Linked DNA regions of Homo sapiens. The protein of the gene in region 3 purifies or fractionates together with the protein of the main gene of each other region. This does not show direct contact. Each region holds a gene or a part of one and is shown on either strand. Other genes may lie near its edges. The genes, in order: SLC25A15, ACSL1 and MESP2.

Region 1 (3,647 bases), on a different chromosome or scaffold from region 3:
TACAAAAAAATAAAAATTAAAAAAAATCTACTGTTGTATGGTCACAATTTTACTGGTGCCTTATGTGGAAGAACATTTCCTTTTTTAAAAATAACTGCTTTCCTTTTATTTATGAAGTTATACATTGTCATCATATAAAACTTAGAAACCACATATGCACACCACAGAGGAGACCTGCTCATCATCCACCACTGAGAATGAACCGCCCTTCTGTTTCAGTTTTCTCCAGGAGAATGCTGTTCAGATGCAGCTGGCAGTGCTACCTCTCGTCAGCAGACATGCTGCACTGAAACTGTAGATGCTGCTTATGATCCAAGATTTAGCTTTTCTTTCATTAGCAAAAAGCAGAGTATTGGAAGAGGTTGTCTGAGCCAGATGAACTTGAGGAGTTTTAGGAAGGGTCGGAAATGTCTGCGAAGATGCAAGGGAACCCACCTTTCTCTGTCCAAATCTTCCCAAAACATCAGACTTTGCCTCTTTGTTGGTCTTGCCTTGGGTATTTATTATATAGAGACTAAACAGAATTTGGAAACCACTGGGATGTTTAGCTATCCCTGCTTTGAATGTTGATTTATTTTATACCACTTAAAATTATTATATAAGCTTCAAGATTGCAAAGGGCAGTCTTAGTTATTTCAGTAGGAGTTTGAAACCTGATTGCAGCTGCAGGTCCCACACAACTGAATTCGGTTTCTTGTGCACAGCACTGTTCTCTGGAGGTGCCTGGAGGTCTGAAGGTGTGCCCTTTTATAGACAGGAATTCCACCATGATGGGTAGAGCTTGTTTTTTAAAAAGGCTTGGGACTAGATACGATTGCCCAAGAAGACAGTGTAGACAGCGAGGAGGGCTGAGCATGAATGGGATGAGCCTCCAGCACAGAAAGGGCAGGCAGGAAGGCAGTAAAGAAACAAGCAGGGCACAAACCAGGAGAGTATGGCATGCCATGATGGAGACTGAACAGAAGCAAAAACTACAGGCAACTGTAGTTTTGTTCCCTGTTGAAGGAGAGACACTCTATTAGAGAAGACCTGGAATTCAGTTCAGTTTCCTTAGCAAAGGACAAAATGGGGAGAGAAGACAGGGAAACAGTAAGCAGCCACGTGAGATTCTGGGGAAGACCTGTGTCTTCTGAGCAAAGTAGCCCCTCCAGCCACAGGATAGACAGTGACTTCTGTCTTGCATGAGTGAAACCACTGGATCTGGCTCTGCCCGCCCCTCCACTTTCTTGCTTCCTTAGCCTGTGAACAAAGTGAAGGACAGGTAAGAGCATATTGCTTTTCTGCTGAGAACAATCTAATACCTTACAGCTGCATTTTCCCACACTGCTTTCAGAACATTGAATTGCTGGGTGTCCTTAAGAAAGGGTTGGGAAATTACGTCACAGTGTCTCTCTCGTGAAGAATCACTCTGGGTACATTTATTTCATATAGTGTATGTGTTATTTAGTTCATTAAAGATGCGTAAGGCTGGGCACAGTGGCTCACGCCTGTAGTCCCAGCACTTTGAGAGGCTGAGGTGGGCAGATTACTTGAGCCCAGGAGTTTGAGACCAACCTGAGCAACATGGCAAAACCCCGTCACTACAAAAAATACAAAACTTAGCTGAGTGTGGTAGCACATGTCTGTGGTCCCAGCTACCAGGGAGGCTGAGGTGGGAGGATTGCTTGAGCTCAGGAGGCAGAGGTTGCAGTGAGATGATGCCACTGCACTCCAGCCTGGGCAACAGAGCGAGACTGTGTCTCTCAAAAAAAAAAAAAAAAGAAAAGAAAAGAAACCATCCTGATTAACCTTGTCTAATCCAGCACTCATCTTTTTTGAGCTTGGGCCCGTTTTTTTTTTCCATCCTGAGGAACAGTGTTTGCCTCTTACCTGTTGGGGAAATGCTCTCTTAGAGTCTACAAAGCTCTGACATGTATATCATGTCTCTATAGCCCTCACCGTGATCCTGTGAGAAGAGCAAGGCAGATGTTACCTCTCTTAGGGATGGAAAACTGAGGTGCCGATGTTGACCTGCTCAAGGTCACCCCGCTAAGGACTTGAAATTGTGTCCTCTGAGCTCCTGCCCAGTCTCCTTTCCATCAGACCACAGTTGGGGGTCTGGAATATTTTATAAGGGTCAGTTCTAGAGAGAAGATTAATCAGGAGCAGTGAAAGGAAAGAACTGCTTGTGAGAGCCTGTGGTGAATTTCTGCAATCACATTGTAAATATTTGTCTGTTCCCGGTTTCAACATGACCCAGAATGTTCTAGTTTGACGTTTGGCTGGACAGGGTCTTACATAGCAGGAGTGCTCAGGTACATGTTTGTTGAACATATGACAAATGGATGATTCTTACAAAATCCCATCCTATACCTATTACTGTTTCAATTCCAGTTCTACACATTCATACTACATGCAGAACCAGGGGCCCATGCACCTCCTTCTGTGCACTGGTCAATGAAAGTATTTATTGGAAAGCCAAAGTCCACTGCATATCTGATTTGACTGTGTCCTTGCACTATAATAATGTGCTTGGTGTTCATTCAGATGTCTGAGCCATTATTATATCTTAAACTCAATAGACTTCTACATTTATTGACTGCCACCTTTGTCCTGGCAAACTTGGCAGATCCTGGTTAATGCTCCTAATTGACTATTGCCTGTCAACAGGTTAACAGAGAGTCCCTGAGGGAGGCCAACTGTGGATCTGCAGGCTGGCTGCAAGACAACAGAAACCATTTTAAGCTTCAGTTCTAACAAGCTGCTAAGGAGTGAAGTGGGGGAAAGGAGTGGACTGAACAGCATTGGATGGTTTCCACACCCCATAAAAGCGTGTGCAAGTACATTTGTGTACCTGGTTCTCCTTTGCTAATGGTTTTAGGCTTAATTCTCTAACATCAAAAGGAAGTCCTTACTGCAAACAGTGTCTTCCTACTGAAAGAAAGCTCCACTCTAAGCCAAGTCTTCTGAAAGAGTTGCCTCTGGCCATGGTACAGAAGCTAGACCACCAGGGACTAGCAAACCAGGGCCAAGACTGGTGCCACCTTGATTTTATACTAATCTTTAACACTGGAAAAACTTGAGTACCCCTGAATATGGTAAGTCCATCTGTGCTTTTTTTTTTTTTTTGAGACGGAGTCTCACTCTGTCGCCCAGGCTGGAGTGCAGTGGCGCAATCTTAACTCATTGCAACCTCGCCTCCCCAGTTCAAGCAATTCTCCTGCCTCAGCCTCCCGAGTAGCTGGGACTACAGGCGCCCACCACCATGCCCAGCTAATTTTTGTATTTTAGTAGAGATGGGGTTTCACCATGTTGGCCAGGATGGTCTTGATCTCTTGACCTCGTGATCTGCCCACCTCGGCCTCCCAAAGTGCTGGGATTACAGGTGTGAGCCACCGTGCCCTGCCCCATCTGTGCTTTTGCTCACAGTTTGGAGAAAAATTGTTAGGGGATTATATCTCTACCTGAGTAGTTAGCTGAGGAGATTCCCACCCACCCTTAGGGGTTTTTGGAAATCTCTGAGGGTGATCTTGGCTGTCCAGTGAGAGCATGATGCTGGCATTGAATGGGTGTCAGGGAACCAGTTCAGTCCTTCCTGCCCAATGAAGGATTGTCCTACCCCCAAATGCCAGTCATGATCCCATGACACAACACTCTTCTAGGGCTGG
Region 2 (3,647 bases), on a different chromosome or scaffold from region 3:
TGGGGCCTGGAGAAGAATTCTCAGTGGCCAGAGCTGATCTGAAGCTGCAGGCAGTTGAGTTTGAGTTTCAACATGTTGGTACTTCAAGGGGCTTCTGAAAAGTTTTAAAGGAGCACAAGCCCTGAAGGAGTAGCTGAACTTAGTGAACTGGAGAAGGCAGGGGCAGTTTTACCAGGGTTTGTGGCAGCGACTCTAAGATTGTCATTTTACATCAAATGCTGAATGTCAATGCATAAGAAATTTCAGTTTGTGGCAAGCCTTGGGTTGTATATAATGGCAAGAAGAGAAAACTATCACATAATCTGAGTTATGTTCATTTTCTACATCATGACATTTTCACTTTCTTTTTTTTTTCTTTTTTCCCAGATAAGGTCTCACTCTGTCGCCCAGGTTGGAGTACAGGCATGATCATGGCTCGTTGCAGCCTCTCCACCTCCCTGGGCTCAGTTGATCCTCCCACTTCAGCCTCTCCAGTAGCTTAGACTACAGGCGCACATCACTATGCCCAGCTAATTTTTGTATTTTTTTCGTAGTGAAGCGGTTTTGCCATATTGCCCAGTTGTCTCGAACTCCTGGGCTCAAGCGATTTGCCCTCCTTGGCCTCCCCAAAGTGCTAGGATTACAGGCGTGAGCCACTGCACCCAGCCCACTTTCATGTTCTTGACTGTGTTAGAAACAACACAGTATTGATTCACTTATGACCTTTGAGGAATCAAGAGGGGCGGGTGAAATATTGGAGACTCCTTGAAGTGTGGCTGGCTTGGAGGGTGTCACCCTTGGACAAAAACTTAAGTGGAGGTGAGTAAGGGCCCTGCTCCCCTGTGCTGCCTGCCTTAGAAGGATGTGATCATCTGGAGGCAAATAGCTTGTTGCTTGAGGCCAGGAGTTCAAGACCAGCCTGGGCAACAGAGCAAGACCCCATCTCTAGAAAAAAAAAAGTAAAAACAATAAAATAAAATCTCAAAACTGGTGGTTCCATATAGGTGCCTGGGCTGATTCTCTTTATGAATTATTTGCTGGTCTTCAAGTTTAAATAAAATTCTGAAAGCTGTCTAATATCTAAAAACCACTTGCCACAGAAAAGCTGTATTTGTTTTTCATATTTTAAGAGTCATACATACTTACTGGAGAAAATTTGGGAAATAGGAAAAATGAAGCTCTTCCAGAGATTAAATACTATTAACATTTTGTTATATTTCCTTCCAGTCTTTTTTCCCTATACAATAAACAAATTTTAAGCATACATTGTTAATTAAAGATTACAATTTTGACAATTTAACTTTATCACCTAAGTTATATTGTGGGCTTTTTTACACGTTGTTACATATTCTTCAAAAAATAAGTTCTGAAGATGACTGCATTATTTGCTGTATGGGCCATAATTTAGTTACTTCTCCCCATTTGTTGGATATTTTTCAGAACAGTTTACCAACCTTTGTTATATGTTTAAATACGTCTTTAAAAAATAAAAAATGTTCTGCTTTAAAACTCTTGAAATTAACAATAATTTGAAAAGTGTTTTTACTAATGAATAGGTTTAATGGACTTTTGGGTTCATGTATTCTAGTCAAAAGCAGTTGAAATAGGGATTTCATGGTTTGGAAAGAGAAATGGAAAGAAGTTAGGGCATCAGAGGAGGAAACGGGGCCTGCCTGTAGACCATTTCCTCATTCTGGAGGGGACTTCTGATAAATGTAGGCTCTATCCATTAGCACAGCTTTGGCTGCTATAGAAATGGGCACTTTCCCCTTAGGTTTGTTGTGGGAGAAATGTCCATATAAGAAGGACTGAAACACTCTGAATACTATTTATTCCTTTATTAAGCAGAGTCATGAGAAAGTGCTTCCGGAGCTAGTTTCTCCTTCAGGGTCCAGGTGTCTGCCACAAAGCAGGGCTGTGGTAGCTGACCGAGGTGGTAGCCACAGCCTGGACACGGCCAGGCTTAGGAACAGAGCAGTGATGAGAGCAGCAGACAGAGCCAGGTGCTGCTAAGCTTCTGATGGGTTAACTCATTAGTACCTTCAGCAACCCTGTAAGGTAGGTCCTGCTGCTATCCTTACTGTACACAAGATAAAGGAACAGGTGCAAAGATTAAGTTCCCCATACCAGAATTTGAACCTAGGCAGTCTGGCTTCAGGGTCTGTGCTCCTAATTGCTGGGCTCTACTGCCCCTCCAGAGCTAGAAGTTCTCACTCCAGGAGGGCCTAGAAAGTTCCAGGTTAGGCCAGGTGCGGTGGCTCACGCCTGTAATCCCAGCATTTTGGGAGGCCGAGGCGGGTGGATCACCCTGACCAATATGGTGAAACCCCGTCTCTACTAAAAATACAAAAATTAACTGGGCGTGGTGGTACGTGCCTGTAGTCTCAGCTGCTCGGGAGGTTGAGGCAGGAGAATCGCATGAACCCAGGAGGCGGAGGCTGCAGTGAGCCAAGATTGCGCCACAGCACTCCAGCCTGGGTGACAGAGTGAGACTCTGTCTCCAAAAGAAAAAAAAAGAAAGTTCCAGGTTATACAGCTGGCAGTAAGACAGGAAGGACAGAGCTGGGTCTCCTTCGGTGTCACTGCTCCTTGATTTTACCCCCATCTCATTTACACTCTGCCTTGAATTATCTCTTTATACCACTAGAGTGCTGAAAGAGACCACAAATTTTGATTCAGCGTGGCTCAGGGAGTGATAAGATCACTTGCTATGTAGCTGTGACTTTCTAGAGAATTAAAAAATAAAAGGCTTTGCCTGCCCTGGACATTGGTCTTGTAAGGCTGGAGAACAATTGAGACGCATGACTGGCCGGGTGCAGTGGCTCACGCCTGTAATCCCAGCACTTTGGGAGGCCGAGGTGGGCGGATCATGAGGTCAGGAGATCAAGACCATCCTGGCTAACACGGTGCAACCCTGTCTCTACTAAAAATACAAAAAATTAGCCAGGCATGGTGGTGGGCACCTGTAGTCCCAGCTACTTGGGAGTCTGCAGGGATCGGAGGGGGGTGACTTGGCCAAGGTAACACAACCTGCCTGACCCTCTGGCCATGCACACGTGTGGAGTTTGTTCCCGGGCCCTGTGCCTGTTCAAAGAATGGCTGGACGTCGGTATTGCCCTTGGTTTCTGCCCTGAAGTCCAGTCAGTCAGCAGTTCTGCTTATTCTGACCCTCTCTGTGCAGTATTACCCAACACACATGCATTTCCTCCTTGCCTTCTCAGTATTGCCATCGTGAACCAGAATTGTCACCTCCAATTTAAACAGTGAAGGCCTTTGTTAGGAAGAGGGGCAGGGTGCAGAGGGGGATGGTTGCTTTTTCTAAATCACAGCTCTGATCAAATCCCTCCTAAGCAGAAGCCTTCCAGGCTCCCCTCCATAAGGCTCCAGGTGTTTACTTACCTTGCCTGTCAGGGGCTTCTGCAGCTTGCTTCCTACCTGCTATCTCCACTCCTCTCCAAACCACCATATCCTGAGGCTTCTAGAAAGCAAACTCTGGCGGCATGGGGTTAATGGGTCTGTGTACCCAAGACACTGTACCTGGGTGCTGTCATCTGCCTGACTGACCTTCCTGTGTCCTGGTCCGATGGTGTCTTTGATCCTATAGCTAAGATCAAGACACTGAAAATCTCTAGACTCAAGTCTGTGCTTTTGCTGGGATAAAGTTTGTG
Region 3 (4,236 bases):
AGACGTGATGGTGCATACCTGTAGTCCCACCTACTTGAGAGGCTGAGGCAGAAGAATCACTTGAACCCAGGAGGCAGAGGTTGCGGTGAGCTGAGATGGTGCCACTGCACTCCAGCCTGGACGATAGACCAAGTCTGTTTCAAAAACAAAAAAAAGAGAATAAATAAATAAATATGAATTAAATGAATAAAGTCCATTAGTGCCTTGAAATCTAAGTACTTTCCTTTTATTTTATTTATTTATTTATTTATTTACTTATTTATTTATTTTTGAGACGGAGTCTCGCACTCGCCCAGGCTGGAGTGCAGTGGCACGATCTCAGCTCACTGCAACCTCCGCCTCCCGGGTTCAAGCGATTCTCCTGCCTCAGCCTCCCGAGTAGCTGGGATTACAGGTGCCTGCCACCACACTCGGCTGGTTTTTGTATTTTTAGTAGAGACAGGGTTTCAGCATGTTGGCCAGGCTGGTCTCGAACTTATGACCTCAGGTGATCCATCCACCTCGGCCTCCCAAAGTGCTGGGATTACAGGCATCAGCCACCATGCCTGGCCAGTACCTTCTTTATAAAACGATCATGGCAAACCTTCAGCTCACTTGCCAGGGCCTAAGTGCTTTACAGGGATCGCTGTACTTAGTCCAGGAACCATCCTAGGCATAGGTATTTTGTATCACTATTGGTACCGATGAGGGAATCTGAGGCTCAGAGGAGCTAAATAACTTAACCAAGGTCACAGCCAATAAAGAGGCCGGCTTGGGGACCCATTTTCGCCGGTTTTCATCACCTAGGGTACCCAACTCCTCTTCCCCAACCTAATCTATTCCATTTCTCAAGAGTAGATACAGACCATGGGCAGTGAGATGCCTTTCTTGGTGTGTCACTCAACAAATCAGAAACTGTGGATTTTGGGGACCCCAGAAGGGCCCACCTGCACTTCTTCCTCAGCCACCATGGGCAGGGCCCTCCGGGCTTGTCTTGATGCCTTATTTAATACAACAGTAGGCACAGCGTCCTGGGCACAGACCTCCGGGAGGTTAGTGATGAGAGAGGCACCCACTCCTCACGGGGTCCCTGAGGCACCCACAGACCATGGCACTACCCGCCTCTGTTGGGCTCCCGGGCACTCACCGTGAGCAGTGGACGGGGCAGGGGCGTGGGTGGGAGCGTGGTGAGAAGCTTAGCAGCTCCATCCAGATGCGAATTGTCCCTCCCATACTTCCCGGGCTGCAGGGGCCTCCATTTAGAGCCCCCAAGGAGTCAGAATCCACACCTCCGCAAATGGGCCCGCTTTCCCAGGGGCCCCCTGCCCAGACTTTCCCTGGGCTCTGTGGGTTTTGACACCTCTCTGCAACCTGGCGGGGGGCCACCTCGCACCTTTGGTCAACATAAAAGCTCAGGCCTGGAGGTGGCCAACCCAGCCTCCCAGAGCCTGCAGCCCGGCCATGGCCCAGTCGCCTCCTCCGCAGAGCCTCCTCGGCCACGACCACTGGATCTTCGCCCAGGGCTGGGGCTGGGCCGGCCACTGGGACTCCACGTCCCCGGCCTCCTCCTCCGATTCGTCGGGTTCGTGCCCCTGCGACGGCGCCCGCGGACTCCCGCAGCCACAGCCTCCGAGCTGCAGCTCCCGAGCCGCAGAGGCAGCCGCGACGACGCCCAGACGAGCGCGCACCGGACCAGCGGGCGGACAGCGGCAGAGCGCCAGCGAGCGGGAGAAACTGCGCATGCGCACGCTGGCCCGCGCCCTGCACGAGTTGCGCCGCTTTCTGCCTCCCTCCTTGGCGCCGGCCGGCCAGAGCCTGACCAAGATCGAGACGCTGCGCCTGGCCATCCGCTACATCGGCCACCTATCGGCCGTGCTGGGTCTCAGCGAGGAGAGTCTGCAGTGCCGGCGCAGGCAGCGCGGGGACGCGGGGTCCCCTTGGGGCTGCCCGCTGTGCCCCGACCGTGGCCCCGCAGAGGCGCAGACGCAGGCGGAGGGGCAGGGGCAAGGGCAGGGGCAGGGGCAGGGGCAAGGGCAGGGGCAAGGACAGGGGCAAGGACAGGGGCAAGGGCAGGGGCGCAGGCCGGGCCTGGTCTCCGCCGTCCTCGCCGAGGCGTCCTGGGGATCCCCGTCCGCCTGCCCCGGAGCCCAAGCCGCACCCGAGCGCCTGGGGAGGGGGGTCCACGACACGGATCCCTGGGCAACACCCCCTTACTGCCCCAAGATACAGTCGCCCCCGTATTCGTCCCAAGGGACAACCTCCGACGCGTCTCTTTGGACGCCACCCCAAGGCTGTCCCTGGACGCAGTCGTCCCCAGAGCCCCGGAACCCACCAGTGCCCTGGACGGCGGCCCCAGCAACTTTGGAGCTGGCCGCAGTGTACCAGGTATGTGTGGAGGCCCTTGCTGTGTTCCCCAGCCTCCAGTCTGCAGAGAATCTCGTACTTTTTCGATCCCAGCTTATCTACTCCAGGATTATCTAACGGAGGGGAGAATGGAAGGAACCCCCGGCTCCGTGGGAGAAGAGATGGGACCCTGGGAAGTTAAGGCCATCTCCACAGTCACCACAAGCAGTCTTCACAGCCATGGGAAAGAGGGGGAGCCCGCCGACTTTCTCAGAGGGTGGAAAGTAGCAGGGTGGGCGTGCTGGCTTCAAGTGCTATTAAGACTGCAGTGGGGGAAGGAAGTCCCAGGGTAAGGGCAGCATTTCCTGAGTAGATGGGCCTAGAGCTGGTGATTTCAAGTTTTCTTCAAGATTCGTTCATTCATGAGGCTCATGAATGACTCATCGTCCATAAAAAATCATATTAACCAAAATTTGTTGAACACTTTCTATGTGCCCATCATCATTCTTGGCACCTTACATGTATTATTCAGCCCCAGTAATGACCCTAGGAAGTAGGTATTATCAGCATCTCTATTTTACAGGTGAGAAAACTGAGACTAAAAGAAGCTACCTGAGTTCTCATTACTAGTGAGTAGCAGAACTGGGATTTAAGCCTTAGCAGAGTGTCTCCCGAGCCAGTCCTCTTAACCACTTGGCTTTGCTGCATTCATGGCACCAGGGCTGTCCGGATGCTGCCAGCCATACCATGGCAACCAGCCAGATTCAAGATCTCTGGATATCAGGGAGTAGCCCACTAACCAGGCTGCTCTCATCTCTCTTGCAGGGTCTCTCTGTGTCTCCAGAGCCCTGTCTGTCGCTGGGAGCTCCATCTCTCCTGCCCCACCCATCATGCCAGAGACTGCAGCCTCAGACCCCCGGGAGGTGCTGGAGCCACAGTGCAGAGGTGGTGCCCAACTCAGAGGACCAGGGACCGGGCGCCGCCTTCCAGCTCAGTGAAGCAAGCCCTCCCCAGAGCTCAGGCCTGCGGTTCAGTGGCTGCCCTGAACTTTGGCAAGAAGATCTGGAGGGGGCCCGCCTGGGCATCTTCTACTAAATGGCCTCGGCTTCCCTCTTTCCATCCAGGAATCAGTCCTGTAGCTTGGGTGCCTCCTTATTTGTTAATTAGTGGCTTTTCATGTTCTCCTTTAGCCAAGGCTCCCTTTTTCCAAGTGATGTCTTTCAGGGAAGCAGTGTTTGAAATAGATAGCGGGTACCTTCCCTGGATGGAGTCAGGGCGGGGGCACTGTCCTCCACTGCTAGACACCCCCAGAATGCCTGGCGCTCTGCAGAGCACAGTCTGAGCTGCTCTAAGAAGGGGTCTCCTTTACCCTAAAGGCAGCTGGGCAGGGACAGGTGGGAGAATGGGTGTAGGAGGCAGGCCCCAGGCTCTGCTTCTTGGTGACAGTTGGCCAGAGCCCTGTATGCTTTGATTTTTTTGTACTTAAAAAGAAAAAACACACACACACAACAAAAATTTGGTTTGGCCTTGTTTTTTGTTCATCAACCTGGGTTTTTCTTGCCTCTGGAAAAGGAAACATGTTTTCCTTCTGTGGGGAACAAGTTCTGCTGCTCTTTCCTTCTCTAATCCAGGCCTGCCAAGGTTTGGGTGGGCCCTCATTTGTCAGTTTGACCATATTTATTGCACTGGAGCTCCAGGGCCAAAAGCTCCACCTGGCTTGCTGTGCAAGGTAGCACAGGTGGGCTAAGCTTGGGCCTGCCCACTTGCCTCAGCCACATCACCACTGCCCTTTTGTGTTCTTCGGGTGCATTCCTGGTGACTGCTGGGGTGGGTGCATGCAGCTGTGGACAGACAGACAGGAGCCCCAAATGGGGAGACCACAGTCCCAGAGACCTGTCATTTAGGGCTCTTTCA

What was found.
Region 1: the proteins of MESP2 (region 3) and SLC25A15 purify together in Homo sapiens (affinity purification with mass spectrometry; one large-scale study listed by BioGRID and IntAct). This does not show direct contact.
Region 2: the proteins of MESP2 (region 3) and ACSL1 purify together in Homo sapiens (affinity purification with mass spectrometry; one large-scale study listed by BioGRID and IntAct). This does not show direct contact.

The regions. Positions count from the first base shown.
Region 1 is NC_000013.11:40,799,486-40,803,132, forward strand, and holds part of SLC25A15 (mitochondrial ornithine transporter 1), read left to right. Parts: exon of another isoform or gene 1-1,239; intron 1,240-3,647.
Region 2 is NC_000004.12:184,819,456-184,823,102, reverse strand, and holds part of ACSL1 (long-chain-fatty-acid--CoA ligase 1), read left to right. Parts: intron 1-3,647. UniProt on the Homo sapiens protein: Catalyzes the conversion of long-chain fatty acids to their active form acyl-CoAs for both synthesis of cellular lipids, and degradation via beta-oxidation. Preferentially uses palmitoleate, oleate and linoleate.
Region 3 is NC_000015.10:89,774,918-89,779,153, forward strand, and holds MESP2 (mesoderm posterior protein 2), read left to right. Parts: upstream 1-1,414; 5' UTR 1,415-1,440; coding exon 1,441-2,364; intron 2,365-3,147; coding exon 3,148-3,417; 3' UTR 3,418-3,837; downstream 3,838-4,236. UniProt on the Homo sapiens protein: Transcription factor with important role in somitogenesis. Defines the rostrocaudal patterning of the somite by participating in distinct Notch pathways. Also regulates the FGF signaling pathway. Specifies the rostral half of the somites.